2 separate regions of the Homo sapiens genome follow, and region 1 is linked to region 2. The links come from fine-mapping of genetic effects on gene expression. A gene starts in region 2. The other region holds a variant in brackets. All regions are shown on one strand. Distances are from middle to middle. Region 1 overlaps CYSTM1 (cysteine rich transmembrane module containing 1). Region 2 holds the start of CYSTM1 (cysteine rich transmembrane module containing 1).

Evidence for each region.
Region 1: its variant is fine-mapped to the expression of CYSTM1 in whole blood (TOPMed, PIP above 0.99).

The regions. Positions count from the first base shown.
Region 1 is chr5:140,218,709-140,234,175 of GRCh38, reverse strand. All of the region lies in intron 2 of CYSTM1 (cysteine rich transmembrane module containing 1), which reads right to left. Among named protein-coding and RNA genes, the nearest start is that of CYSTM1, 51 kb to the right of the region's middle. The variant G/A (reference allele first, on the strand shown) is at 3,951.
Region 2 is chr5:140,167,214-140,182,680 of GRCh38, reverse strand. CYSTM1 (cysteine rich transmembrane module containing 1) reads right to left here and starts at 7,493. Exons shown (of 3, transcript NM_032412.4): 1 at 7,396-7,493. It overlaps LOC101929719 (a long non-coding RNA gene), which reads right to left. Exons shown (of 5, transcript NR_130738.1): 3 at 15,208-15,316; 4 at 14,879-15,000; 5 at 13,896-14,044. RefSeq lists silencers at 7,106-7,395, 12,681-12,876 and an enhancer at 7,686-7,915.

The sequences.
Region 1 (15,467 bases), 51 kb before region 2:
TCACAAAACCCCTCAGCTATTTTAAACCTCACATTTTATACAAAAACTAACCCCAAGTGGATTATAGATCTCAATGAAAAACATAAAACTGTAAAATATTTTAAAGAAAACATGGAAAAGCATCTTCATGACCTGGGGTTAGACAAAGAGTCCTTAGACTGACACCAAAAACGTGATAAAATAAAAAATTGATAAACTGGACTTAATCACAATGAAAACTTTTGCTCCATGGAAGACACGGTTAAGGGGATGAAAAGATAGGCTACAGACGCAGAGAAAATATGTGCAAATCACAGCCAACAGAGGACTTGTATCTAAAATATATAACAACTCTCAAAAGTCCACAGTAAGAAAACAACCCAATTTGAAAGTGGATAAAAGACTTGAAAAAACACTTCACCAAAGAGGATATACGGAGAGCAAATATGCACATGACTTCATCACTAACTATTAGGAAAACACAAATTAAAACCACAATGAGATGCCACTACATACAATCAGAATGGCTAAAATAAAAATTGCTGACAATATCAAGTACTGGCAAAGATGCAGAGCCACCGGAACTCTCATTCATTACTGATAGGAACGCACGATGCCAAAGCCACTTTGGAAAAGAGTAGCAGTTTCTTAAGCCTACCATATGATCCAGAAATTCCACTCCTGGGTATTCAGCTTAGAGAAATGAAAACTTAGGTTCACACAAAAACCTGAACGTCAATGTTTATAGCAGATGGATTCATAATCACTCAGAGGTAGAAACAACCCAAATGGTCCTTCAACAGGTGAATGAATAACTGGGGTACCTCTAATACAATGGAATACTTCTCAGCAATAAAGTATCCACAGATCCTCATAGAATACACCAGCAGTTAACACACTGATGATTGTGCTCGCAAGGCAGTATCCTGGAATGACATTCCAGGGCAAAACCTACCATCCCAAATCTCCTGTGGCCAAATGCACTGCAAAATCCCAAAGACCAGGGGCTTTCAAATGTATTCCTCAGGCCCCTAAGCTTTCATAAAAAGTAGGGGGTGGTTCCTCTTTGCCTCAACCACAGCAATTCTATAGTATCTATTTTCCAGACTGGAGTTGCATGTAGAGTTTCCTTTCAAAAGATGTATATTAGCAAAATCTGTAATGGTGGTCATGAAAGATCTAGACTGTTGCTACTGTTCAGAAGGACCTCCCCAGGGCATGGATGGTCATCTGTTTGGTTATCTATGTGCTGGACCCTCCAGCAGCTACCGCAGAGGACATAGTCTTCTTGAGGAACAATGTCTCCTCTGTTCAGGCTCAAAGCTGAGTGACATTAGCCTGACTCCCTTACTTGATGTCTAACCTTTTTGGAACTCAATGTTTTGTTAGCATGCTTCTGTCCAGTTTAGTGGAGGTTCCTAGCCTTCCTGCCTCAGCTAGTTCTTTGCACCTGTGAGCTTGCCTGTTCCATGCTTACACACATGTCTGCCTTTCTCCAGGCCTGAGGAGCCCTGTCTTCTAGTTCCAAGCAGTCTTGTCTTTCCTTCTGTTGATTTCCTTCACAGAACAAGAACTGGAGAAAAGTCCACCTCCTCAGTGAAAACAGTGTAGACACTTTTGCGTTCTCACTTTACCTAATCTCTCAGCAACATTTGATGTTACTAATCAATCCTCTCTTCCCAATACATCTTCACTCAGCTCTCAGGACATCCCATTCTCCTAGCTTTCTCTCTCTGACTCCTTTGCAGATCCATCCAGAATTCCTTAAAGCTCAGCCCTACACTGCCATCTTTCCTTTTCCCTCCATATTTCCATCCAAGTTGATCTTACTCACGGCCACAGTTTCAATGATCATCAACATGCCAAGGCTCTCCACATTGACATCTCTAGCCCAACCTCTCCTCCAAGCTTCAGGTTTATATACAATTGCTTACCTGACAGCTCCACTTGAATGTCTCATAGATACTTTGAAACCTCAAACTAACTCAGTTTGTTCTCTCTCTCAACCAATCATGATTCCTTTCTCTTGTTCCCAACCTCTGTAAACACCACCACCAGGCACCCAGTTCCAGTCAGAAACCCAGAAGTCATCCCTGACTCTTACCTTCTTCCTCAATGTCCATATCCAATCCATCACCAAGTCTGGTTGATTTTACTTCCCAATATCTCAAATGCATTCATTTCTCTCCATAATCACCATGTGTACCTGTGCCCCCTTCCAAACCACTCTCCACACAGAAGCCAAAGGGATTTCTTAAAAATGCAAATGTGATATCATCCCTTTGCTTAATATCCTTCAACAGCTTCCCATTACTCACAAGACAAATACCAAAATCCTTAACTTGGGCTATGAGCCTCCATCTTGTTCCTGCCTGTTTCTCAACTGCTCCTAATGTCCCCTTGCGGCCTATGACACCAATTTCCTTTTCCACTTTATCAAATGAGCCACCATCTTTCCTGCCATTGGGCCTTGGCACCTGCTGTTCCTACACTTTTGCCTACTGACATCTATACATCTTTCAGATCTTAGCTCACTTCACTGCCTTGGGGAAGCCTTCTTGGACTGTGCCAGATTGTTCCCCTTTTGTAGGTTTTCATGGCATTATGTCTCTTCTCTTCACAGGGAAGTATGATGTCAATTATTACCTGTGGGTTTATTTAATGTCTGGTTCCCTCCCTAGAGTATAAGCCCTGCAAAAGCAGGGATTGGGGGTTTGTTCTGTGTGGTCTGTCACCTGACACTCTGGAGCTACGTTTACGGAATCCATGATTGTCTCTGTAGAACCCTGGTGGTTTCCCTGGAGCATGCATAGGACAGACTGAAGAACTGCTCCCCTCACAGCTGAACTGCCCCCAAGGGAATGGTGTGACAAAGATGGGCTAAAATTTTCTAATGTGTGATCCCAATGGAATGAATAAATTATTTCCACCAAGTAATAAATGTAACATTTTAAAAAAGTAATCTATTCACAGTAACATTAAAATTATACCTGGAGAAAAATCTAATTTTAAAAACCAATAAAAATATGTGAGAACTATGTGAAGAAAATTTTAAGACTTAAAGGACATAAAAAGAAGACAAAAATAAATTGAGAGATTACTTGTTCATGGTGGGAAGACAATATTGTAAATATGTCAACTCTTTCACCAATTACTTGATAAATTACATGCTGTTCCAATCAAAGCCAAACATGGTTTTCTGTAGAAACTAACACACATTCTAAAATGTAGATGAAACAGTAAAAGGCCGAGAAAGCCAAGAAAATTACGAAAAAGAATAAGAGGTATGTGTTTATGCACGTGCTGGTGGAAGGAGGGTACACATCACACCAGATTCCTGATTCTAGCTCATATTCTAATTCGTATATGGGAACGTGGTATATGACAAATCTCATCTCAGATTAATAGGGAAAGGACTGAAACTGTGCCCCAAAGATTAAAGACACCAATCCCTAACAGAGTTTACAAGATGGCAGTCAAGAAACAACTTGCTGAAACACTGAAACGCCTCTGCTTATGAGGCAAAAGAACTGAGTGAAATCTGTTAGAACCAATATGGCCAGCTGGAGTTTGGACAGAATGAGCCTGCTGATGATGTCACAGCCTGAATTTTCACTGCATGTTTCATGCTAACCCCTCCCCTGAATTTGCACATGGGATCCAAGAGGTAGCATGAAGAGATTATTGTACATGCCCCAGGACTTTCCAAACCTCTTCTTTCCTTCCATCAACCATCTCTCATCCTGGAATCCACCCCTCTAACCTTTTCTAATAAAATTACTGCCTTAAAGCCAGGACAGGGAGACAGATTTGAGCTGGAATCCTGTCTAATTGTTAACTTATAATAAAAGCATTTCTTTTCTCAAAAACCCAGTGTCATGGAATTGGCTTCTAGCACATCAGGCAGTGAGCCCCTTTTGCTTGGTAACAGGATGATCTAATTAATACATGCAGCTGGAACTACCAAGATG[G/A]AAAAAGAAAACTAGAATCTTATCCTACACCCATGATAAAAAATAAATTCAGGGCCAGGTGCGCGGTGGCTTACGCCTGTAATCCCAGCACTTTGGGAGGCTGAGATGGATGGATCACCTGAGGTCAGGAGTTCGAGACCATACTGACCAACATGGTGAAACCCCTGTCTCTACTAAAAATACAAAAATTAGCTGGGCATGGTGGTGCATGCCTGTAGTTCCAGCTACTTGGGAGGCTGAGGCAAGAGAATCCCTTGAACCCAGGAGGCAGAGGCTGCAGTGAGCCGAGATCGTGACACTGCACTCCAGCTTGGGTGACAGAGCAATACCTCATTTCAAAAAATAAAATAAAAATGCAAAATTAGCTGGGTGTGGTGGCACATGCCTGTAATCCCAGCTACTTGGGAGGCTGAGGCAGGAGAATCGCTTGAACCAGGGAGGCGGAGGTTGCAGTGAGCCAAGATCATGCCATTGCACTCCAGCCTGGGCAACAAGAGCAAAACTAGGTCTCAAAAAAATAAATAAATACATAAATAAATAGATAAATAAATAAATCAGGTGGACTAACGACTATATCTTAAACATTTTTAAAAGAAAATATAGACTTATTTTTATGAGCTTGGAATAGAAAATGAGTTTTCAAAGACTAAACCATACAAAGCACGAGGGAAAGATGATAAACATGACTTCTAAAATTTCTCATACTAGAAAATACACCATAAAAAGATTAAGAGAGGCCAAGTATGGTGGCTCACACCTGCAATCCCAGCACTTTGGATCTCAGGTGGATCGCTTAAATTCAGGAGTTCAAGACCAGCCTGGAAAACATGGCAAAACCCTGTCTCTATTAAAAAGATACAAAAATTAGCAGGGTATGGTGGCGCGTGCCTGTAATCCCAGCTACTTGGGAGGCTGAGGCACAAGAATTGCTTGAACCCAGGAGGTAAAGGTTGCAGTGAGATGAGATCACGCCACTGCACTCCAGCCTGGGTAACAGAGCAAGACTCCATTCCAAAAAAAAAGAGAGTCAGATAGGAAGAAGATATTTGCACACCTATAAAACAGACAAATATTAGTGGATAGAATATATAGAAATTCTCTACAAATCAGTAAGACAAACCAACAGAAAAGACAGGCTAAGAATATGTATAATCAATTCACAAGATATGTACAAACTGCCCAAAACTTATATGTTTATGTTCAAGGTCACTAGTAATCAGGGAAAGCAAATTAGTGAGATACCATTTCACACCTATGAAAGGTGCTAAAATTTAAAAATCTGTGAGTTATTGTCAAAGAAAGAAGAAAATGGAAATTGTGCAACAGTAGTTGTTTATTCCTGTAACAGGAGGTAGCAGGGCTGTAGGGAAATACTCGGATCTTAGCTGCTCAGTTCAAGTTGTCCAGGAGGCAGCAGCAGCAGAGAGCAGCCCAGCAAGCAGCCAGGACTGCCTGACACCCGCTGTCCATCTTCCTTTCCCGTTCTATCACGTACACTGTTGAAGGGGGTGCAGGGCGGGCAGAGGAGAGAGAGACCCAGTCAGAGGGGACTTGGAGTGGCAGCATGCTGGTAGAACTTACCACACTCTGCAGACTGGTTCTGTCTAGATTGTTAGCTCCACAAGGGCAGGGCAGGGGCCAAGCTGATCTGGTTCACTGCGCTTTCCCTGTTTCAGTGTCTGGCACACATCAGGTACTCAGCAGCTATCAGACCACTGTTCCTGCCACCTCTCCTCCAAGCTGACCAGGAAACCCAACCCAGTACTTTATTTGTTGCTTGTCCAAAGTGATCCAATTCTCAATGCAACCCTTGCCCTGAGCCCCACCCCTGAAGCCTGCCCTGATATGGCAGGCACCGGCGGAAATCTTTACATATGATTTCATTTAATCCTCCCAACAGCTCTGTATTATTATCATCATTTTATAACTCTCATACACTGTTAGCAGGAGTGGGAATGGACAGAATCTCTTTGAAGGAGAATTTAGGGAGAAGGGGAGAGACAACAACTGCAACCCAGAAAATTTGTATCTGGAATTTATCCTGCAGAAATAATTGTCCCAGCGTTCAGGGATCTATGTAAAGTATGGTTGTTGCTGCATCAAAATAACCCCAAACTAGCCTTAATGTCTATCAGGTGAGTCCAGTTGGGTAAATTAAAGCACACCACATAATAGACTACTACTAAAAGAACCAGGTGGTTCTTCCACGTGACCAATAATTTAAGGGATGAAAGCAAGGTCTGGAGCAGTGCATCTATTTTATTTGTACAATAAGAAGGATATACACACAAATACACACACACACATTTCTGAAATATACAAGAACTTAAAGGTCAGGGTGTGGAGAGAGGTGGAGGTTTTCACTTTGCTTTTACATTTTTCTCAAATCCAGGCTCGTCTGATTCCAATGCCACACTCAAAGCTGCTCCTGGGGGTCCTCATGGCAGAAGGGTGGGGCCTAGCTAGTTTTAGAATGCCTTGGATCTCTTCAAGCGTCTATTTCAACTGCTCTAAGATAGTTCCGGGGGCTTTAGGGGCAGTGGGCACTGACCAATCTGGGCTCCTAGCCCCAGTGGCCCCATCCTCAGTCCTGGGCTGCCTCCCTAAGTCACTGTTACCTAGACACCTCACATGGTCCAACTCCCCACAACCATGCTCCTCTTATAGCCTGACCTGGCACCTCCTAACCCATAGTTCCACCTATCAAATATGCCTTAAATCCAATTCTGTCTCCTCTCAGGCCCTGCAGCCTCTGAGTTCTAGGCTAGCACCAGGACTTCTGCTGGGCAAACCTGGCAAGTAGGGGATGCTATCAAATCACAACTCTCCCTCCAAGGAGCTCAAACCAGAGAGGACCCCTATACTGCTGCAATTCCTAGGGCTGAGCCCCTATTAACCCTCTCCCCCCTGCCCATGCAAGATCCCAAACAGCTCATTAAGGCTTCTTTTGCAACCCCTGGCCCTTCACACCAGGTGGCAGTACTTCAGAATTTACCAAATCAACCCCAGCCTCTTCTCTTGGGGTTTGGGAAGGTACTCAGGAGCCCACCTGAGCCAGGTTCTGGGGAAGACGGCATCAAGGGAGCAGGCGCCATTGGTCTCTGCCTATGCACAGCCTTGAGGATTCCATGATGCTCCAGGGGCCACCTCCAGGTCCCTAACCAGCCCTCTGGCTCCCCTCACCCCAGTGAGTGTGAACATCCATCATACTCCGCTTTCTCCTCTCACTTCCTCAGCAGAGCCCCTCCATTCTTGACTCCCACACTGCTGCTCTCCACCTCTGCCAGTCAGCGACCTCAGCAGCACCAGGACCCTTGTCAGGAACTTCAGCGTCTACTCAGCTGACCCTTGGTAGTGCCCACCCCACCCCTTGGCCTTCTCTCAGCATCAGCAGTACTGTCACTGGGCTCATCCTTTCCTGTGTCCTGGAAATATCCCCTCCACATTTTTTTTTTTTTTGAGACAGAGTATCACTCTTGTTGCCCAGGCTGGAGTACAAGGGTGCGATCTCGGCTCACTGCAACCTCTGCCTCCCAGGTTCAAGTGATTATCCTGCCTCAGCCTCCCAAGTAGCTGGGATTACAGGCATGCGCCATCACATCTGGCTAATTTTTATATATATATATATATATATATATAATATTTAGTATATAATATATATTTATATTATATATTATATTATTAATATATATAAATATATTATATATTATTAATATATATTTATATATATTATATATATATAAATATATATATATTTTTTATAGAGACGGGTTTTCACCATGTTTGCCAGGCTGGTCTCGAACTCCTGACCTCAAGTGATCCGCCTACCTTGGCCTCCCAAAGTGCTGGGATTATAGATGTGAGCCACCGCGCCCAGCCCAGAATAGGAATTTTAATAAAATATCAAGCTGAATTTAAATATAGGGTCATCTACTCACTGGCCATGTAACCTTGGACAGGTAATAACCTCTCCAACCCTCAGTTTCTTCTGCTATAAAACAGGAATAATATTAGTAATCTATACCCCATCATAGGGTTGCTGGGAAAATGAAGAGATTATGCATGTAAAATGCTGGGCACAGTGCTTCGCACATTGGAAAGCATTCAGTAAATGCTCACTGATGTTATTACTATTATTCAAATGCCTATGACCTTTCAGGCAGACCCCTCCCCTGACCAAAAGCAGGCCTCTTGTAGACAGGGAGAAAGAAGAGGAGGTGTTTACCCACTCTGGGAAGAAGCCTCAGAAATAAACAGGAGGCTGGGAGTCAGAGTCACAGGCTATTCTAGGAGCAAGGGGCCTGCAAGATCAGTTAGCCCCTCGCTGTAGAGAGGAGGTAACGGAGTTCCAGTGCAAGGGATGGATATGCCCAAAGCCACTCAGAGAGAAGAGGAAGAGCAGAACAGAGCCAGATCTCTATCTCCAGTAGATTCACGGCAGGAAAATACAAGAATGCTGGGGAGGGGACTGCCAGGAACCGAAGGCCCTGCCTAGGCACACCTTCCTTCACTCCAGCTCACACACAGACATGAACAGTCCCCATCAGTTTTCCTTTGGCCTCAACTAACTACATGACATCAGAGCCAAGGTTCAAAGTCAGGGAAACCGGTCACATCTTTGGGAAGTATGACTAGGAAGCCCAGGCAGAGCTCAGGGCTGGGCAGCTTCCAAGTCAGAGGATGTGGAGTTTGTATACTGAGCCTGGGACAGAAGAGAAACATATGGGACATGGGAACAATCAGGATGGCAGCCAGAGGCTGGAGTCCAGGGGCCACAGACACCTCCTGTATCCTGACTGCCAGGCCCAGGCCCATGCCTGGTAACAACCCCTTCCCCAACTCCCTCCCACTGATTGAAGGCCTAAACAACCCAGGTACTGTGGTCACCCCAGCAGGAATCCCCACAGTGGGATTCACCTGTATCTGCCTACACCACCTGCCAGTCCTAGCGTTCCACTGATCCTGAATGGGCAGTGACACCTATGTAGGAAAACAGTTTGTTGCATGGCAAGAATGACACCATCTTTTTTATTTTTATTTTTTAGAGAGAGGGTCTTGCTCTATTACCCAGGCTGAAGTGCAGTGGCATGATCATAACTCACCTCAGCGTCAAACTTCTGGGCTCAAGCAATCCTTTAACCTCTGCTTCCCAAGTAGCTAGGACAACAGGTGCATGTCACCACACCTGGCTAATTTTTAAAATTTTTTGTAGAGACAGGGTCTTGCTATGTTGTCCATGCTGGTCTTCAACTCCTGGCCTCAAGCCATCCTCCTGCTTGGTTTCCCAAAGTACTGGGATTACAGGCATGAGCCACTGTGCCTGGTATGACACCATCTTGAAGTGAAACCACGATGACTGATGTATTCCCATAGCATAGACAACTCCTTATAAAAACACAATGCCAGGCTGGGCATGATGGCTCACACCTGTAATCCCAGTGCTTTGGGAGGCTGAGGCGGGAGGATCCCTTGAATTAACGAGTTCAAGACTGGCCTGGGCAATAAAGTGAGACTCCATCTCTACAAAAAAATTTTTAAGTAGCTGAGTGTGGTGGCTCATGCCTGTAGTCCCAGCTATTCAGGAGGCTGAAGCAGGAGGATTGCTTGAGCCCAGGAGTTTGAGGCTGCAGTGAGTCATGATCACACCACCACATTCCAGCCCAAGTGACAGAGAAAGACCCTGTCTCCAAAAATAAAAGAAAAAAAGAAACAATGCCTATTGCATAAATAACCTCTAGTGAAGATATTTGTCTAATCTTCCTAGAGTTTTGTAAGAAAGTCTGCGGCAGCTGGGCATGGTGGCTCACGTATGTAATCCCAGCACTTTGGGAGGCCGAGGCGGGCGGATCACCTGAGGTCAGGAGTTCGAGACCAGCCTGACCAACATGGAGAAACCCCATCTCTACTAAAAATACAAAATTAGCTGGGTGTGGTGGCGCATGCCTGTAATCCCAGCTACTCGAGAGGCTGAGGCAGGAGAATCGCTTGAACCCGGGAGGCAGAGGTTGCGGTGAGCCGAGATTTCGCCACTGCACTCCAGCCTGGGCAACAAGAACGAAACTCCGTCTCAAAAAAACAAACAAACAAAAAAATAAACTCTGAGGCATGACCAGCTATACATGTGTTTACCCTAAAAGCTTGCTATTTAAATAATACTTTCTGGAGAGTACGTACAGGGATCCACCCTGCCTCCACCTGAGACATTGCTTCTGTTCTTAAGTCCCTATTAAATGTTTCTTTCTGAGAAACTGGATGTGTCAGCCTCTCAGCTCCCTCAGCCTTTGGGGGTCGATCTGTATATAGCTGGCTCACCCTGGAATAACTTGTGAGCATAGACACCAGCCACCCTCCAGGAACTGGCTGCATACCCTTTGAACAACCTCTTTGATCTTCTCTCCCTGCCAGAGGAATGGCTTGCCTACCCCAGTGCAGCAAAGTGCCCCCTTGCCTCATATCAGCTCCAGAAATAGCTGCCTGATTCATGAGCAGGCCCCTCCCAGGGTGTAGGCCAGGGACCCAGCTGAAAGCTGGGTTACTGTGTGAAGAGCTCTTATTCCACACCCCACATAGATCTCTGTTCTTCTGGGAAGGATCTGATCTACTGTCTGGCAAACTCCCGCCTTTGTCCTCCAGCATCCGGAAAATAAGGTAACCATCAGGGTAATGAAATGGTAGCCGCAGTACTAAGCATGTACTGATCCTTTTTGTCAGCTCATCCCAGCTCAGACCCAGCTGACATTCCCTCCTCTTCCTGGTTTTGCCCATGACTTGGGCTGTCCCCTTCACCTTTCCAAACCTCAGTATCAACATCTGTAAAAAGCAGGGTTGACAGTGGTGTCTACAGTAAGGTCCCAAAGATGAAAATGCCTTGACAACAAAATATTGTTTGATCCTTCCCACTCCCTGCCCCAGGGGCCATGTGCCAGAGCAGGAGAAGGCACCATCAGCCCTGAGAAGAGCAGAAGAGAAAAGTAGCAGAGGATGTCCTCCTCCTCCTCCTTCTCCTTTGCAACATCTCACTGGATCCTACCCAGAACCTGGGATCTCTAGGTGGTTCCTCCAAGAGATCTTCCTGACCTACCCCATTAAGGGTCTTTCTGACTCTGAATTCCTGCCAGCACACTGTAATTGCAATCATTCAAAAACAGCCTTAGAAATATCAAGCAGTCCTTAAGAATACAGCACTGAGGCAGAGATGGGCTCAAGGTGAGTATCTAGATGAAAAAGGCAGACTACAGGCCAGGATATGTACAGTGTCCAGAAGAACAGAGTTTTGGGGGTAAGAATAGGAGACTTTTATTCTGTATGCCCGTGATGTTTTCCTTTTTACTTCTGCTATTAGAATAGAACAAAGAAAATAGGACTGTCTCAGAAGTGGCTGGCTTATTGTCAGTGTTCCCATATTCCCTAACTAGACTCTAAGTTCCTAAAGTGCAGGGTACAGGCTTTCTCCACATGCTGCCCCTACAGGGCCTGAGACACAGGGAGGGAAGGCTGGCTGGGAACTATGAGCAGCACCAACATCCTTCTAGGCAGGGGCAGATGGCTACAGTGGGCAGTCCCTGCCTCACTCACAAGAGCCACATGGCCCACAGTCTAGGTCCTTACCACGTCATGAGTTCAAAGTCTACCAGTACACTGGAACTGATCTCAGTATTTTTAGTTATGCAGTAGTTTGAGTTGGCTCATTTGTGAATCTAGAGAATTGCTAGGAAGAAATTAACACAGAGAATAATCACATGCCCATTAAGACAAGAGTTTCACAACCAGCCATCTCTACTTCCTAAGTGGCCTGGCAAATACAGATGGACACTGGCTCAAGGAAGCCAATTATCACCCAAGTGTGTCCTTAGCTGGTATGGGGAAAAACCGGTCCTGTGCCAAGGCATTTCAGAAATATACTTTCCTAGGAAGTTACACATATGTAATTCCAATAATTCTAAATGTTGTATAAGAATTGGATGAAACAAAAGCAGATTACAAAAACTGGAAGACATGGGGGATAATACCATGCTTGCACAAAGCTGCCATGAGGGGAAGACAAGTGGCTTCAACAGTCTTAGTCATCAGCAGGCTCATGGTTTCAAGTCCTAAGAGCCAGGTCTGGGGACAAGGCCAAAAGCCCAGCTCAACTAGGGTCAGGAAAGAGAAGGGTCAAAGTCATTAAGAGCCCACGCCACTAGAGCAAGCTGGCGGTAGTAAGGCGCACTGCCTAGTCCAGTGCCCACCAATAAGTGACAAGGGTGCCTCCACAATCATAAGGAAGTGGCCAGCTGAAATGTGGTCAATGAAAGGGGATATATCGGGGATATATCAAACTGGAATTATAAAATGTTGTGAAAGCCTATCAAATATCAAAATGAAGTCTGATATTATGAGTGTCCAGTGATAGTTATGCTGGAGTCTAAAATTAGATGGTGAGTAAAGCTGACTTTTGCTCAGCAGAGAACGGTGATTCATCAGAAACTGATCTTCAAAGACATCCTGCTCCTTGTGCTTTAAACCCTTACCCAAATGAATTGAAAGTAGGGACTTGAACAGATATTTGTACACCCATGTTTGCAGCAGCAGTATTTAGAAACATAGTCAAAAGGTGGAAGCAACCCAAGTGTCAATGGATAAACGAAATGTGGTATAAATATGCAATGAATATTATTCAGTCTAAAAAAGGAAGGAAATCCTGACACACGCTACAGCATGGATGAATCTTGAGGACATTGTGCTAAGTGAAATAAGCCAGTCCAGAAGGACAAATACTATATGATTCCACTTATATGAGGTACTCAGTGTAGTCAAATTCATAGACATGGAAAGTAGAATGGTGGTTGCTAGGGGCTGGAGGTAGGAGAAAATGGTGAGTTGTTGTTCAACAGGGACACAGTTTCAGTTTGGGAAGATGAAAAGAGTTTTGGAGATGAGTGGTGGTGACGGTTTCACAACAATGTGAATGTACTTAATGCCAATGAATTGTACATTAAAAATGGTTAAAATGGCAAATTTTATGAGAATTTTATCACATACATAAAAACCTGCATTATTTTTTTCTTTTCTCAAGAGACAGGGTCTTGCTGTGTCACCCAGTCTGGAGTGCAGTGGTGCAATCATAGCTCACGGTAACCTCGAACTCCTAGACTGAAGTGATCCTTCTGCTTCAGCCTCCTAAATAGCTAAGAAACTTGCATTCTTTAATCCTCTGTTTATACATGAGAATTCCAGGACACTTCAACACTTGGGGAAAAAGACACCAGAGCTGAGCTTCACAGCAGGCAAAACTCTGTACGTTGGTGGCTCAGGATGTTCTGTCCCAGCAGCAGCTTCAGTTCTCTTTGGTTTGGTAGCATGAATCAATCCTGCAGGCCCCTGGAGCCAGCCTGGACTCCAGCCAGCCAGAGACACCTCATGGTCACAAAACAGTAAGTCCACTCTGCCTGCCTGTGTGCCCACCTGCCCTCCTGCTTGAAGACTCTTCTAGACTGCTCCAACTATATCTCACATCCAGCAAATGTGCTGAAGGAGAAAGAAGCTGCTGTTGCTGACACTTAGCTCAGTCTCCTTCCCACCTCACATGCTCACTTTGCATTTTCCTGACACAGCCAACCCTGCAGAGGAGTCCAGAAACAAGAGACATCATCCCTGACTCAGGCAGCTCACAGACCACTTGAAAAGAAGACAAAGACCCATCTCAGGAAGCTCACAGCCACATGCCAAACTGGGCAAGACCAATTATAAACACAATTGGAACAAAATCATGACAGATCCTTTCAATGAGTTAAGGTGAGAGGAATGTTAATCTTATTACCGCCCTCTCCTCATTTCTCTCTTCTTGCACTGCTAGAAGAAAATTCAATAAACGATGGCTAGTGAGTGGCTCACCAAGAAATGGGCATCATCTTAGATGGGCCCTGGCTGCCACAGCCAGCCCTAATAGCCCTGGCTTCTGACTGATAGGGCCACCATGGCCTGACAGTCCCTTGCCCTCAGGATGGAACCGTGGTTAGGGTGATTAATGCATGAACTGTTATTTCATACCCTGCTGAGCAGCAAGAATGATGCTTGAAACCAGGGAAGCATAGAAATAAAGCAAGGAGAGAAAAGGTAAGAGTGAAACAGAGATAGGAAATGACTTAGAAACCAAAAACCCCCAATGTCAGTGGCCCTTGAATATAAGACAACTACTGCCATGATTTTAGAAGGCTAAACAGAAATCAGGGAAATGATTTCCTCCTGGTTTTCAGGCACTGGGTTACAGAAAAAAAAAAGAGAGAAGTTACTTTGAGTGGAGCTGGCTCTTTGGAACTTGCCCAAATGGGCAGAGATCACCAAGGAGGTAGCTGTTGGGTTTTTCCAATTAGTGTCCAGGCACAGGCAGGCACAGACTACTCTGTTATCGTCAATGTTAGCCTGATTCACATTGAGTGCTGGCCCAGGAGTCTCATTCAAATAGTACTTGCTGCATTTTCTAAGAAGGTAAACACTGCCATATCATTTTTAATGAACATAAAACGTGTTTTATCTTAGGTATACAGACCATAACTGGCTTCAAAAGGTACCAGATTCCTGTGTTACTGATTAACAGCTCCAGGAGATATATTTATGCAAAGCACCGCAGGTTGTTTTCTTTTTCTACTGCCAGGCTTAATTTTATGACAGTAAAAACAGTAGTGTTTTCTCCTGAACGCACCTCAGTTTAGAGGCTGGTACACAGTGAGTTCCAAGGTCAGGGATGGGACAGGATGACCATTCTCAATGAATGTGGTGAGAAGGTGATTCGGGGGCAACCCTCACTTGTAAGGACTGTCTCCCACCCCTCCCCTCTACTACCTGCAGCACACTGCCCACGATTTCAGAGAAACAAAGGCCATTCCTTGTAGATTTGCAAAGAACTGTGCAGGGTGCCTGGGCTATGCCAAATTATCCACCGCAATTCCTGCTGTTTCGTAACACTGTTTTGTAACACAAGCTGACATCCACCTAGAATCAAGGGCAAATGGTCCTGAAAATCCCCACTTTACCCACTGAGATGTGATTATTTGGCAAATGTGAGGCTAGAGACTTCACCAGCAGAGAAAAGGAGACAGAAGTGGTGGCCTGGCTTGTACGACTGTAACTAGGACTCTGGCCCTGGAAGACAGGGCCAGAGTTTAGGGAAACAACTCCCTTCCATGGTGAACTCTATCAGGCTTGGCCAGCTTGTCACTGAAGCCAGATTTAAAAAGTCTCCACAATCATGACCAGCCTCTTGCCATGAAAACTGTAAGGTGGAAAACTAAGTAAGGTTGGCCTTGTAGATGGAGCAGGTATGTAGGGACCCTCCAAAAATATGCTGGGAGGGCCAGAGGGCATCTGATTTCACCCCATCCGGTAGAGTTCAGCTGCCAAAGCGGTGATTTTATTTACAGCACTACCAATTTGGAGAACTAAGAGATAGAGCAGAAGGACTCTCAGCAAACTCCAAAAGCCCCGTATATAGCACACTTGACTTAGGGTACCACCCTCCTGGATAGTATGTTTGCAATG
Region 2 (15,467 bases):
TGAAAGGAACTCAAAGTAGTTTGGGTTATTGATGAGTTAAAAAAAAAAAAAGCATCCCTCCTGCCCCCCAAGAAAGATCTGAGTTTCCCAGGAGAATCTGAGTTTTCTAAGAGCACGCTGGCACAGAAAGAACAATGTAACACAGCATCAATGAAGCCACACCCCTGGCAGAGGGCCTAGAATTTAATATAGTATACAGCCTCACCACCACTCAGGCCTCTTTTTGGCAAACTTCAGATCAAAACAGAAGTGGTTTCACATTGCATTTACCTCTTGTTACCTCCTAGATTCTTCATTCTGTGGCCTTCCTAGTATCATAGAACCACACAAGTTTTAGGAAAAGATAGGATTGAAGGGGCCCTCTCTGAAGGCCTGCCTACTCCAAACCATCCTACCACCCATCTACTGCTGCCTGAAAAACTCACTATTAGTGAGTCATATCTTTGGGTAAAGGCTGTATTGCCCCAGGTGGGATATGTGGAACTTGGGGAACATGGACAAACAACTTCAATAATTTATACCTTCTATTTGTGACAGGTGATGTAGTAGTTATCAGTTTAAGGCAATGATATCGTTTCCCTTTTAAACAAATTTTAGGGTTTTAAAAAATGGGTCAACTTTAAGAAGAATGTTAAACAACAGTACAGATGACATAAAGATAAGACAAAAATCATGCAGGGGAACACAAATGAAGTGTGAAAAACACTAGGGTTTACTTTCAAGACCCTCCCTTTAAATACAACTACCCGGCCGAAGGTGGTGTCACACGCCTGTGATCCCAGCACTTTGGGAAGCTGAGGCAGGAGGATCCCTTGAGGCTAGGACTTTAAGAATGGCCTAGTCAACATAGCAAGACCTAGTCAACATAGCAAAAAATACAGACGGGGGTCCTGCTATCTTGCAGTGGCAGTGGCCCCCGTGGCTCTTGCAGGTGCAGTGGCTCATGCAGCAGGATTGCCTGAGCTCAGGAGTTTGAGACCAGCCTGGGCAACATAGTGAGACCCCCATCTCTATGAAATATAAATAAAAAATTAACCAGGCACAGTGATATGTGCCTGTAGTCCTAGCTACTCAGGAGACTGAGGTGGGAAGATCTTTTGAGCCCAGGAGTTTGAGCCTGCACTGAGCTATGATCATGCCATGCACTCCAGTCTGGCAGATTGTCCCTAAAGCAAAATAATAATCAGTAAGTAAATACAATTATCCCTCATTAGTTTCTCACACAGCCACCACCAGACATTAAAGGCCACCAAAAATTAGTTCAACAAAGTTAGCAGAGCCAGAAGGGTGCAGAAACTGCGATCAAAGATTAGATTGGCTTTAGAGAGGGTGGTGTTGGGGAGGAAAGGCTGTTAGTGGGGAAGAGGCAGAAGGGCAAAGTCTGGAGTGTCCAGGAAGCTAGTGGCAGCAGGAAAGCACTAAGTATTCGACTTAACAATAAGGGCTCACAGAATAGCCACATTCTTACAAATGTCCCCCTCTTCACACACTTTCTCCCCAACTGACTCTGCCTAAGATTCTGAAACTGAAAGCTGACCAGTAAAGTACTGCGTGCAGCATTAAACGTTTAACGTGGCAGAAGTCTAGCACCATTTCCCAGGTCTTCCTCTCCCCAAATGTCTTTGTAGTTCAACTGTTTCCCATCCCTACTTTTCTCTGAATAAGAAGCATGCCTAGATAGTTTTCAGTTACGATGTTTTCTGAGCCAATGCTCTTGAGACTGGCTAATGATTCTTTAGTACAAATAATCAGGAAACTAGTGATAGGAACCTCTGAATAAGGCATTTACTCTTCAGTGAGTAAATTCAGGTAGATCAAACCCTCCTCCCACCATGACCATCAATATTCTCCCTTAAACCATTTAATGAAAAGAGTTTAGAAAAATATAAATCATCTGTTGTTTTGGCAAAGTCATACCACAAGCTTGCTGCCCACAGAGACTGGATTCAAACCATTTGTCTCCTTTGCTTTAGATGTGAGGACCTACCCAGTTTCCAAGATCTGACTTGGAGGCCTAAATCAATAATAATATTCCACATACATCTCCTAAAAGCTATAAAGGAATCATTCCAAGCTCACTTCCTTTTGAAGACTCCTTTGTGTAGTGCCCAAAATGGTGTGAACATTTTTGGTTGTAAAGTGGGAGGGTCAGTTTATGTTCAATTCCCTTGCTTTATACTACTGCTGTTTAATTGCTGACTCCCATTTTATAGCCAAGCCAATTAGTAGCCTTGGCCAAGCGTGAGGAGCTTGGAAGCCTGAAACATGGCACTCAGCTAAGCCTACAGATAACAGAAAGCCTTTTCTGTCAGAATTTCCCTCATGAGAGAGAGCTTGACCTGGCCAACAAATGTCAGAAGTCTAAAAGATGGATGTTGTAGTTCAGTACGTAGTGTCCCTGGGCACATCAGCAAGCACTCGAATCCTACTAGATTGAGTGACAGGACTGGTGGCCTGACACAGGTGAGGGAAATTTTAAAAGATGACTATTTCACTCCTCATCCAATTTACTGAACAATCTTACTCCCTTTTGTCTCTGACCAGCTTAATAACTTACTCCTTTGAGGGCTGTGACACTTTCTGATAATACTCTTGCTGTTAAAAAAGATGCTGGGTCATAGGCTGCCAGTTCCACAGCCTTCTGTTACTGGTTTACTCCAGGCACTCCAAAAAAAGCCAAGACCAGGTTAACAGAGAATAAAAGAAAAAAGAGAGTGAGGCTGGGCGCGGTGACTCACGTCTGTAATCCCAGCACTTTGGGAGGCTGAGGCGGGTGGATCACCTGAGGTCAGGAGTTCGAGACCAGCCTGGCCAACGTGGTGAAACCCCGTCTCTACTAAAAAATACAAAAAATTAGCCAGGCATGGTAGTGCATGCCTGTAGTCCCAGCTACTCGGGAGGCTGAGGCAGGAGAATCGTTTGAACCTGGGAGGCAGAGGTTGCAGTGAGCTGAGATCGTGCCATTGCACTCCGGCCTGGGAGACAGAGCAAGACTCTGTCTCAAAAGAAAAGAAAAGAAAGAAAAAAAAGAGAGTGAACAATCTGAGCTTTACTATTTATATATGAAATATAAACAGGAATTTAGTTAGCCTCAGGCTTCCAAATTTTTATTTTTATTTTTCAGACAGAGTCTTCCTCTGTCTCCCAGGCTGGAGTGCAGTGGCACAATCTTGGCTCATTGCAACCTCCGCCTCCTGGGTTCAAGCAATTCTTGTGCCTCAGCCTCCCGACTTAGCTGGGATTACAGGCGTATGCCACCATGCTCAGCTAGTTTTTGTAATTTTAGTAGAGACAGGGTTTCGCCATGTTGGCCAGGCTGGTCTCGAACTCCTGGCCTCAAGCAATCCACCCACCTCGGCCTCCCAAAGTGCTGAGATTACAGGTGTGGGCCACCGTGCCCAGCCATTTTTTTTTTTTTTAAGCGACAAGATGTCATTCTGTCTTCCAGGCTGGAGTGCGGTGGCGTGATCATGGTTCATTGCAGCCTCAAACTCCTGGGCTCCAGCGATCCTCCCACCTCAGCCTCCTGAGTAGCTAGGATTACAGGCACATACCACATGCCCAGCTAATTTTTAAAAATTTTTTGTAGCTATGGGGTCTCCCTGTGTTGCTCAGGCTGGTCTTGAACTCCTGGGCTCAAGCGATCCTCTTGCCTCAGCCTCCCAAAGTGCTAGGATTACCGCACCGGGCCTCAGATCTTGATTACAGGCTGATTAGTAACCAAGCCCATAAAACCCCAGGAAAAAACAAAGCCAAACAAAACAAAAAACCAGCAAAAAGTCCAGGCATGGTAGCTCATGCCTGTAATCCCAGCACTTTGGGAGGCTGAGGCAGGCAGATTGCTTGAGCCTAGGAGTTTGAGGGGAGCCTGGGCAACATGTCAAAACTCCATCTCCACAAAAAACACAAAAAATTAGCTAGGTGTGGTGGTGCAGGCCTGTAGTCCCAGCTACTCAGGAGACTGAGTCGGGAGGATGGCTTGAGCCCAGGAGGTGGAGGTTGCAGTGAGCTGCGATTACACCACTGCACTCCAGCCCAGGCAACAGAGCCAGAACCTGTCTCAAAAAAATTAAAAAAACCAAATCAGCAAAAAGGTCTTAGATAGCCAGGCATGGTCGCCTGTAGTCCCAGCTACTCACAGGGTTGAGGTGGGAGGATCACTTGAACCCAGGAGTTAGAGACCAACCTGGGCAACATAGCAAGCCCTGTTTCTGAAAAAAAAAAAAAAAAAAAAAAAAAGGAAGGACTTGAATAGGGCTTTTCCAAAAACTTAGAACTTCAAACTCTTTTAAAAAACTTTTATCACATCTCAAAATATACCATTCATCCAAGAATTAAAATATTCTGCTTTGGAGGAGCTCAAATTTCATATAAGCCTCTCATTAATTCTCCTTGGTACCTCTGTGAGGAGGTACTGACCCGCATTCAAGGTCAAAGAAAGTTTCCATGCCAAGAAAGGAGTGCCCTGCTCAAGGCCTTAGTTGACAAATGTGAGCTCAAAATGCTCCAGCCCATACCCCAGCCCTGCCTTTCACCTCAGCCCAGTCCCCCTTAAGAAAGAGCATTTCTATTAAAGGCCAGCCCTGTTGTTTATTATAGTTTGTATTTAGGGAAACACACTAACATTTTTTTCCTGACAGTAAAGTCTTAAGTTCTCTACCAATGAGAAAACTTGTGGGGGTGGCTTGGGTGAATGAAAGCAGAAAATTTCCAAAAACTTTTGGCCTACTTAACTGCCCTGACAGCACATAGTTATTTTGTTTGGGAAAGGAGGGGGTGGACTGTTTCTTTCCAAAGGAACCATAATTAGTTGGCCACTTCAAATAGTATCAAAGAGATTTGGAAAACAGTTACTTTTCTAAATTTTTTAATGAGGCCAAGACATCTGATTTCCAGCGATTCTTAATATTAACAAGCTCCTGCAAAGCCCCTTAAAAATCACTATCATAATCTCTACCACTCAACAGGAACACACGGGGAAAAAACTACTCTGGCCTTTTACACACTTCGGGGCTTCTTTTACAGAGAATGACTTCACTGATCTGACTGGAAGTCCCGTTTCCCCAGGTCTCACCCTGGATTTGCACTCCTTTGAGTGCTGCACCGGTTTCTATATTTACGCACAAACCAGCTGCGGCCACCTTCCTTCGCAATTCCCAAACCTGCCTTTCACTGTACAGGATCCCTGGAGGTCCAATTCTGTTTTCTGGAGTCAAAGAAATACAAAATAATTTCACTACCTCCCAGAAAACAGACTTTGGTAAGTTTCAATATAAAATAGACAGCTCTTGAACCCAGGAGGCAAAGGTTGCAATGAGCCAAGATCTCGACACTGCACTCCAGCCTGGGCGACAGAGCAAGACTCCGCCTCAAAAATAAACAAATAAATAAAATAAAATAGACAGCTGTGTATTTTTGGTCCTAGCACCAATAAATTTCAGGGCTGGGAAAAATCATAAATTACCAAAGCATTCCTCTTCATATAACCAAAATATATTTTTCCTGTTGCTCAGGAAATTAAGACAAAATAGCCAACTAACACTTACGCAGCCTTACACGGAGAAACTCAAAGCTGGCAGGAAAGGACTAGAGATTTTTTTTTTTTTTTTTTTGAGACAGAGTCTCGCTCTGTCGCCCAGGCTGGAGTGCAGTGGCGCAGCCTCGGCTCACTGCAAGCTCCACCTCCCGGGTTCACGCCATTCTCCTGCCTCAGCCTCCCGTGTAGCTGGGATTACAGGCGCCCGCCACCACGCCCGGCTTATTTTTTATATTTTTAGTAGAGACGGGGTTTCACCGTGTTAGTCAGGATGGTCTCGATCTCCTGACCTCGTGATCCGTCCGCCTCGGCCTCCCAAAGTGCTGGGATTACAGGTGTGAGCCACCGCACCAGGCCAGGTCTAGAGATCTTTGATCTACAATCAACAAATAGTATGGGACTCCTTTCAGCGAATCCAATGCCCCACATGAATGTTTGGATGCTGGTTCTCCTTTAATAACTTCCCCCTATTAAATCTCTTACCAGTCATTTGGGGTTTGGGTTTCACCCTAGGGATACAAGGTGTTTGTAAGTCACTCTGAAACCTCTGAAGGGCAAAGTGTTGTGGACGCTATAATCTCCCTGCATACTGAGGGGGGCATAGCTCCCAACCAGTCATTAAATCCCGTCAAATGAGATACTCGAAAATGAGCTGCCCTTGGGTGGGTCCTTTCATAAAAAGGAATTTTTAAAAATCTGCTAACATGGTTACTCCACAAAGTTTACATGTATCATATTGTATAAATCTATAAATATGTACAATTATTTTTTGTTTAATTTCTAAAAATTTGCCAACAATGGCTGAAAAAGGCACCTGGCTGCCTGAGCCCCTACCCTTGTCGGTTACAAGTATTTCATAAGCAGGGTTTGAGGAATCCCATCAGAGAAGAGTGTTGTCACCTTTTTGCCGGAATGTCACACCAACTTCCTCAGTGTTCCCCTCACACCAACTTCCTCAGTGTTCCCCCTACCCCAATCTAGCCAACGTTTCAATGGCTCCCCACAGCACACAGTGCCTCTCAGGTGGGCACTCAAGGGTCCTTTCCTAATCCTCCCTAACCTAATTCTCCAAACTTTTTTTCCCCCAAAACAGCCCAGCAGACGGTCCAGTCAGTCCCCAAATCGTTTTTCCTCATGGTCTCCTTCCCCAGGGGTCCTCCCCTCCTTCTCTCCCCCCTGCAACCTCCACTGCTACCGGGAGATTAGTTCCCACCCGTCAGGACCCCGCTCAGATTTCACTTCCTCCAACAGGTCCGCTCAGATCCCAATCCACGGCTCTCAACAGCAGCCGGGATTCCTTTCCCCCGCAACGCCTTCTCTGAACACCCCGGCCTCCGAGCGCCGGCTTTGCGTTCCCTAGTTACTTCCAGTCACTAGTTACTTCCGCTCCGCTCCCACCCGCGGGACTCGCGACCTGCCCCCTGCCCCCGGCTGGCCCAGCTCGGAATAGGCAGAGCAGCGCCTCAGAAATCGCAGCCCAAGGCGAAGAAATCCAGAAGCCTCCCGCGGACGTCCCCCGGGACGGGGTGTGGCGAGCCCCGCTCCGAGCCCGCCGACTCCTCGTGAGACGAGAACCGCAGCGACGCGGAGACCCTGTGAGTCCACCGCCGAGACGCGCGGCGCGGCGACCAGGAGCCCCAGAGTAGCCGCGGGGCGCCGGGAGGGATCCAGCTGGCGGCAGCAGCTTCCCTGCCTCCCTGCCCCTCCCCAGGGGCTGCGCGAACCCCTGCCTGAGCCAGGCCAGCCCGGGTGCCCCCCAGTTCTCAGGGCGCTCCCCAGGGAGCCCGGGGACGCGCCCTGTCCGTGCCTGATCCCCGCCCTGGTCCCAGCTGGGTCGGGCCAGGTCCGCTGCACCTCACCTCTCCTCTCCACGAACCGACTGGATAACGGTCGGGTCTGAACCTGAGGAGCCCGGACCAGCCCGCAGTAGACTTGCCGCACCTGTCTCAGAGCAAGTGAGGAGCAGCCGGGCGCCTGACGTCACGGCCGCTCCCAGCGCCGCGAACCGGGAGTCACCTGATCACCCTGGCAACGCGCGCGGCGCGGGGCGAGGCGAGGCTTGCGTCACAGCACGAGCCCCGCCCCCAACTGCTCGGCCTCCAAGCGCCGCCGGAAGCGCTCTCTTGCAGTCGGCGCAGTCGGGAGGCGGGGTCGGTCTCCGACTTCCCAACGTGGGCCTCCCAGCTGCGCTGGATACTTAGGACTCCCACAGGCGTCCCCCTCAGATTGGATTGGTTCTCCGAGACTCCACCCGATACCCCAACTCCGCTAGTTCAGGCGCCTGGGAGGCAAGACCAGCGTCCATGCGGAACCCTGCTCAGTGCGTGGCATGAGGGGTCGGCTGTGGGCTGCTGCCTCCTCGTGTCTTGTTGGTCCAGACCCAACTAGGGTTGGGGGCTTACTTCCCGAGCTGTACCTGAGCGGAATGGGGCTGAGGCTGATAACTGGATTGCTCTCTGGCTACTTTTCCCCATAAACCTTGCAACAAGTAGTCCCGCCAGTACTTTAGAGTGTAATGAGACTTCATTCACATCAGGAGGGGGAAGGGGGACAGAATCTTCTGTCCTGAAGGTTTCCTTCTTCTGTTCCAACAGGAAGAGAAGTTACCGAAAAGCTCCCAGAGCAAGGCCTAGAATGAGCTTGCAAGTCCTACTTGCAAAAAATTTTTTATTTTTCATTTTAGAAATTGATTTTCTCTCCATATTCCTCCCCTTGCTTGCTATTAGGTTGGTGCAAAAGTAATTGTGGTTTTTGCATTTTTTTTTTAAATGGCAAAAACAGCAATTACTTTTGCACCACTCTAATATAAGTATATGCCTACAACTTTTGTTACTCTCTAGGCTTCCCAGATAAGACTATCAGCTTCGAAATGAAAATTTAACATCCCCTGGAGGTCTCAGTGTGAGAGTCACTGCCTATTTCACACCTTCACTATTTGCTGACTTTCATTTCAGTTTTACTCTCCTCATCCCTGCACTGCCAAGAAGGTTTCATATGTATTGAAACCTTCCCTCTCAAGAGTTTAGGATCTTAGACCAAGAAGTTAGTTTATAGTCAACTTCTTGTGAGCATCTTTTAGTGTCAGGCAATGGGCCATGGGCAGATTGAGATGTGGTTCTCGAAGATCAAACGTGTATGGGTGGTATGTCTCACATAAGTACAACTTGTACTGTTTATTATGACTTAATCATTGTATTTAAGTGGCACTTTTTAATTTTCACACTTAAAGAAACTCATATAAGTGGGAAAGAAGACAGCTGTGAAAGGTAGAGAAGAACCATGGCTCTAGACAGAGCTGTACTAATAGGAGAGAAGAGATTGAAAATGTGAGCCCAGGTCCCAAGGAGCACAGAGGCATGGTCAGAAGGTTGGTAGGAACAGGACAGAGGCAGCCAGGCCTGAGGTGTTTGGCAGATCTGAGGAGGGCAGGGATAGAGGGTGAGGGGAGGAGTGGGGCCAGAATGAGGCTTGAGGGATTCAATGGAGGGCGAAAGTGCTGGGAAGGGAGGAGGGATTGGAAAGAAAGGAGAAGTATGCAGTGGTTTGGGAAGGAGTTGCTGAAAGGGAGGGCAGGGTAAATAGAGACCCAGGAAAGGGTGCTAAGAGCATTAAGAGAAGGGAGGCTGAGAGGCTACAAAAAAGGACTGAGGGGGAGGAAGAAGCAGGTGGGAGACTCTGGGGCAGCAAACATCTCAGAACCAGTCAGTAGGTGGTGTCCTTCAGAGGCTGTTGGAGAAGAGCAGCATTGTCTGTTTGCCTCTGAAGAGTGAAGGTGATCCATGCACACCCCAAACTACCTCTGGACCATCTGAGGGTAAGAGCCACCCTTTGCAGAGCACTAATGCAGAGGGAAGAGCAGAAACAGGCACGTCCATAACTACACCCTGATAGTACTCAAGGCAGTCAGGCTTTTTGGCTGGACAGTTTTTCAGGCCTGTGGTACATGCCTCCGTGCCTCTAATCTGGGCAGGGCAAGGTGAGGATGGAGTGGAAGGCAGGGGTAATTCCCTTAGAAGGGAGGCAAGCTTCTCATGGCAGCTGGGTCATATGAAGGCTGTGCTAGGGAAGAAAAGATGCTAGGACACATTCTCAGTACGCTCCCTGACCACTCCCCTTTTACTGAGTTGGTAGGGTGAGGGCGTAACCATCGAAGGAAAAATAGAACATTCCTCACCCCCACCTCCACATCCATGCTGAGGAAAGTGTTATTATGTGGGTAAAAACTCAAGGAGTGTTGCTGACAGCATCCAAGAACAGAGATGAGGCCAGGGAATGCATCTCACATGGCTCTTTTCTAAGATTTTGACCTCAGGTCCCAGGACTAAGCAGCAGGCCAGATGTAGAAGTTGCTGGAGTTTCATCAGGTGTCTTCACAACAGCAGTGTGGGTTTCCATTCCTGGAAATAAAAGAAAAATGTCAGGGTACAAGGTCCTGGCCAAGCATATTTGCTGTGAAAGTCCATTAGTCACAGAAGTAACAATGAATTTTCAATATTTGTTCATTCGGGAGAACTGTCCAAGGACTGTGGAGGCAACATGGTGCAGTCGTTGGGAGCCTGTGTTCTGAGATTTATCCATTTTGTGAACTTGGCCAAGTTACTCACCTTCTTTGAGTCTCTGCCTTATCTGTAAAATAGAGATAATAATACCTACCTCACAAGACTATCATAAACTTTAGGTGAATTCCAGGGCAAAGAAAGAGAACCCAGATTCGTAATATTTTTTAAAGGGCCATTTTTTAAACCATTGTATTTTTATTGGACCACATTTGTTCTCTGAACAACTGGATGAAAGAATGTTTCTTGGATGCCTAATGTACACTCAAGACTGATGGATACAGAAGGAGCATGTGCCCTGGCTTGGTCAGGCATCCAATTTCTGATGGGAAGATAAGACAGTGTGAGACCTTGCCAGGCTGCTGTGAAATTGAATGCTAAACTATGTCATGTCCTTCCATGCCCGCAGCGTTCATGGAAAGAGGGGCCATGCCAGCTGCATTGGCTAAGGTGGGATACATGAAAGGAAGGGTCTGTAGCAGAGCCTTGAAAGATAGGATTGGCCAGGCACAGTGGCTCACGCCTGTAATCCCAGCACTTTGGGAGGCCAAGGTGGGTGGATCACTTGAGGTCAGGAGTTCAAGACCAGCCTAGCCAACATGGTGAAACCCCATCTCTATTAAAAGTACAAAAAGTAGCCAGGCGTCATGGCGCATGCCTGTAATCCCAGCTGCTCAGGAGGCTGAGGCAGAAGAATCGCCTGAACCTAGGAGGTGGAGGTTGCCATGAGCCAAGATTGTGCCACTGCGCTCCAGCCTGGGCAACAGAGCGAGACTCCATCACAGAGAAACAAAACAAAACAAAAAACAAAGACAAAAACAAAAAAAAGATAGGATTTGGAGAGGTGGTAGGTGAGGAGAACATTCTGGGTCAGGGCGGTGATCTGAGCAGCCGGGGCAGGGGCTCAGTAAATATTCACTGGCTAGATGAATGAATGAATGAGCAAAGATAATAATGAAATTATCAGCATAGTGTAAGATCAGCCACGCTTTGTTGAATGAATGGATGCATGATTAAACAAAAAAAGCAAAGACAATGAAATTAGGTAATGGTGGGCATAGCTGTAAGACCAGCCTAACTGAACCGTGGAAACTGGGGAGTTGTGGGAAATAAGATAGAGATGGAGCAGACTGTGGGAGAGCTTTTGAGACAGTAGAATCTTCTGGGAGGAGCATGGAGTCTGGATCCAGAGGGACAGGATTGCATTTGGACTCCATCACCACATATTGACCATGTGACTTTGAGTGAGTTACTTAATCTTTCTGTGCATTGGTTTCCTCGTCCAAAAAATATAGGAATAAGATTGATATCTGCTTTATAGTGTCACTTTGAAGATGAACTGAGCAACCTATGAAATGTAAGCATGATGCCTGGCCCATTGTAAGTGCCTTAAACTTAGTTTTTATTATTAGTTTTATTAAGGACTGAGCAGATGAGAATAGATTCAATATGAAAACTTAGGGAACCACTGAAGTTCCTTGAAGTGGGAAATGAGAATGGAATGCAGTGTTTGGGAAGAATCACTTGGCAGAAGTATTCAGGCTGGGTCAGAAGGCAATGGTGTAGCCCCAAAGGGTGAAGAAGGGCTGACCAGGGACTAGAAGCAACCCCTCCTGAAAATGAGAAAGCCTGTCCACTTGCTGGTACATGGCATGCACAGGCACTCAGTAACTCTACTGAATGAAAGTCTGCACCAATTGAACAATATAATTGTGGAGCTCCCAGGCTCAATCGCAAATACTATCAGAATTCTCCCTCAGTCAAGTATAGAGAGGTTTAAAGCACTGGAGAAGTTCACTGAGACTTGGCCTCTGGTTCATTTCAATTTCTCCCCCGAGTAGCTGGGACTACAGGTGCACACCACCGCAGCCAGCTAATTTGTGTGTGTGTGTGTGTGTGTGTGTGTGTGTGTGTGTGTGTGTGTGTGTGTGTGTTTTGTTTTGTTTTTTTTGTAGAGACAGGTTTCACCATGTTGCCCAGGCTGGTCTTGAACTCTGGGCTCAAGTGATCTACCCACCTCAGCCTCTCAAAGTGCTGGGATTACAAGCATAAGCCACTGCACCCGGCCCTTCTGGCTCTTTTTCTGATCTATGTTTTCAAATTCCAATTTGCTTGTCAGGAATTTCTCCACTGCAAGTGCTGAAGCACTATTCAAATCAGCTTAAAGAGGGAGAGATAATGTATTGGCTCATGAAGCCAAAAATCCAGGGATGAGTCTGATTTTCAGGTATAGCTGGATCCAGGCACTCAAACACTGTCACCAGGATTCTCCCCTTTCTCTTTCTCAGCTCTTTTCTTTGCATGTCTTCATTCTCAGATAATCCTTCTGATGGTATCAGAATTTCATTCTCACAGTGAAAAGTCTCAGCAGACAAAAGGCTTTCTCTTTCCTAATAATACTAAGAAAAGCTCTAGAATGGAGCTTAGTTTTTATTTTTTAAGTTTTTATTTATTTATTTATTTATTTATTTGTTTATTTATTTGAGGCAGAGTCTCGTTCTGTAACCGAGGCTGGAGTGCAGTGGCATGATATTGGCTCACTGCAACCTCTGCCTCCTGGGTTCAAGCAATTCTCCTGCCTCAGCCTCCCGAGTAGCTGGGATTACAGGTATACCCCACCACGCCCAGCTAATTTTTTTGTATTTTTATTAAAGACAGGGTTTCACCATGTTAGCCAGGCTAGACTTGAACTCCCGACCTCAAGTGATCCACCTGTCTCGGCCTCCCAAAGTGGTGGGATTACAGGCATGAGTTACCGCGCCCTGTCAGGAGCTTAGTTGGGTAACTTGCTTTTCTCCTGAATGTGTGGCCGTAGCCAGGGCATGTAACACATTGGCTGGTTCCATGTTCTCTTCTGGAGCTGGGGGTGAACACAGCCTCCCCCAAATCCCACAGTTGAAAGTGTGGAAGAATGGCTTCCCAAGGAAAATTCAAGTTTAGTTACCAGAAGTAGGAGGAATGGATGCTGAGCAAACAAAAAACACAACTGACCCCTACAGGCCACCAATACTGAAACCACAAGCTTCCTGAAAGCTCCTCCTATTGAAAGGTTCTGTAATGTAATACAGCTATGAACCTGTGAATTCATAGGCTTGAATTCACTTGGAAATCAACTTACCTTCTCTTGTATTTCCAGAAAAGTTGTATCTAATGAGAAGCAAATTCTGGCACTCAGAGGTTGAGCCATGTTGATATCATTGCATAGAACCTGCCATTGGTTTTACCTAAATGCACTCTCCTTTCTGGAAGTACTACTTCTGAGGAAAGGGCATCAGGGAGCACTTAATGCTTTAAATGTGTTTGTACAGCAACTTGCGTTCTCAAGAGGTATCACATAAATGCATGTGTTTTTAATTTTGACTTGATTCCTGAAGTAGCCTGGCCTTCTGATAGTGATCTTAGAAAATCAACCTAGAAGAAGAATACATTTTTCTCCCAGGCTGTGAGTCAAATGACTATGGCAATGAAGTTCCGTCAACTATGAAGCATCCTTCTGCTTTTTAATCTTTTCAGTAATTAAGAAAATAAATTCAACACATATAAATTAGAAATAATCAGCTTATAAGTCTATTTGCATTTATATTTTTAAAATGGACCGATGACTTAGCACATGACATAAGAAAATAAGTCAGGGAAATATTAAATCCACATATTCATTCAACACATTTACTGAGGGCCTATGGCCTACCATGTGCCAGGGACTGCTCTAGGCCCTGGGGATGTAGAAATAAGCAAAACAGATTTTTTAAAGTCCTTGTGCATATGAAGCTTACATTCTAGTAGGTGTGTCCATTTATATACAGTCTTCAAGTCTCTGTGCCATTGACAAGAACTAGTACTATATACCAGGAAGCATGCATGGCGAATCCTCAGATTCCTCTATGCTAGGCTTTCTGCCAGTGCTCTGCATACATCATCTCATTATTCTCTTCTTCCTAAGAGATGTAGACACCTGTTCAAGGAGCCACAGGAAATGAGTGGTAGGGTCAAGACCAGAACACCTATATCTATATCTGCCTTTTAGCTCATATTTTCTCTTGGGGTGTGGTTGCGGGGGATGGTGGGAAGTGGTAGGGACTGAGGCATATCAGATAACATGCTCTGTGCAAAGGGAGCACTACTCATTCAGATCCAGCCACTTGACATTCAGGAATATAACTCAATGTGGCCAAGTTTTCTGATTTTTCAAGAGAAGCCAGCAAACAGGATTTTGACATGAAAACCAATTTCAAAATACCATGAAAGCCAAACCAAATTTGTCTGGGTACAACTAAGGCTACAGATCTGCCCCTCTGTTAGAGGTCATGCTGTGACCAGGAGGGTGCCTGGGGAGGTAGGATTCCAGATAGCAACCTTGAAACTAGTTGGCCAGCCGGGCACAGTGGCTCATGCCTGTAATCCCAGCACTTTGGGAGTCCAAGGCAGTTGATCATTTGAGGTCAGGAGTTCAAGACCAGCCTGGCCAACATGGTGAAACACCATCTCTACTGAAAATACAAAAAATTAGGTGGACGTGGTGGTACACAACTGTAATGCCAGCTACTCGGGAGGCTGAGGCAGGAGAATCACTTGAACCTGGGAGGTGGAGGCTGCAGTGAGCCAAGATCATGCCACTGCACTCCAGCCTGGGCAACTCTATCTCAAAAAACAAACAAACAAAAAACAACGAAAAACCCCAGAAACTAAATGTGTGTAGAAAACTGCAAATACATCTGTGGTACTTACACAAAGTGTTTCTCAGGTTGATTTTCAAAGACTAAGGTAGAAAAATGGGGCCCTTATTTACCAAAAAAGCAAAGTCCTTTAATGAAAGCTACCAGGGAGGCAGCAGCTGGGGCGCTCCAACACCTAGCCATGGAGGAGGTTGGCATGGAACCATCTGATGCTGGGCTGACAGGCCACGCTTCTCTGAAAAGGAAAATTTAACTTCAGGGTGGGCTTCATGTTACATCTGAGGCCCTAATAATGATCATTATGCTGTCAGCACACAAGACATGGTTCAAAAAAATTCTCCTCCTTAAAGTCACATTCTATGTGCTTTCTGGTCCTTCCTAACCTCCTCCACCCTGTGGCCTCCCACACTCAACACAACTTTCCTTTTCCCCACCCACTTGCCAAGGAACTGCGGCCATCAGACAACATATGGAGGTCTCATCACCGGGATGGTCCGTAACTGGAAAGGAGTTGGTCATCTGGTGTTAGCAGCTCCTCTTTGTGTCGTAGCCTTTGGAAGGAAAGAGGGAGGAACACAGAATAGCGTCCATGTTTAAAAAACATTTGCACCATCAACAGACTGAAACTCTACAAGACAGTGGTCTTACTTTAAAAGTGTAAAGGAATTCCCATCCTCTTGATCTTAGCAAGATCAGAAAACC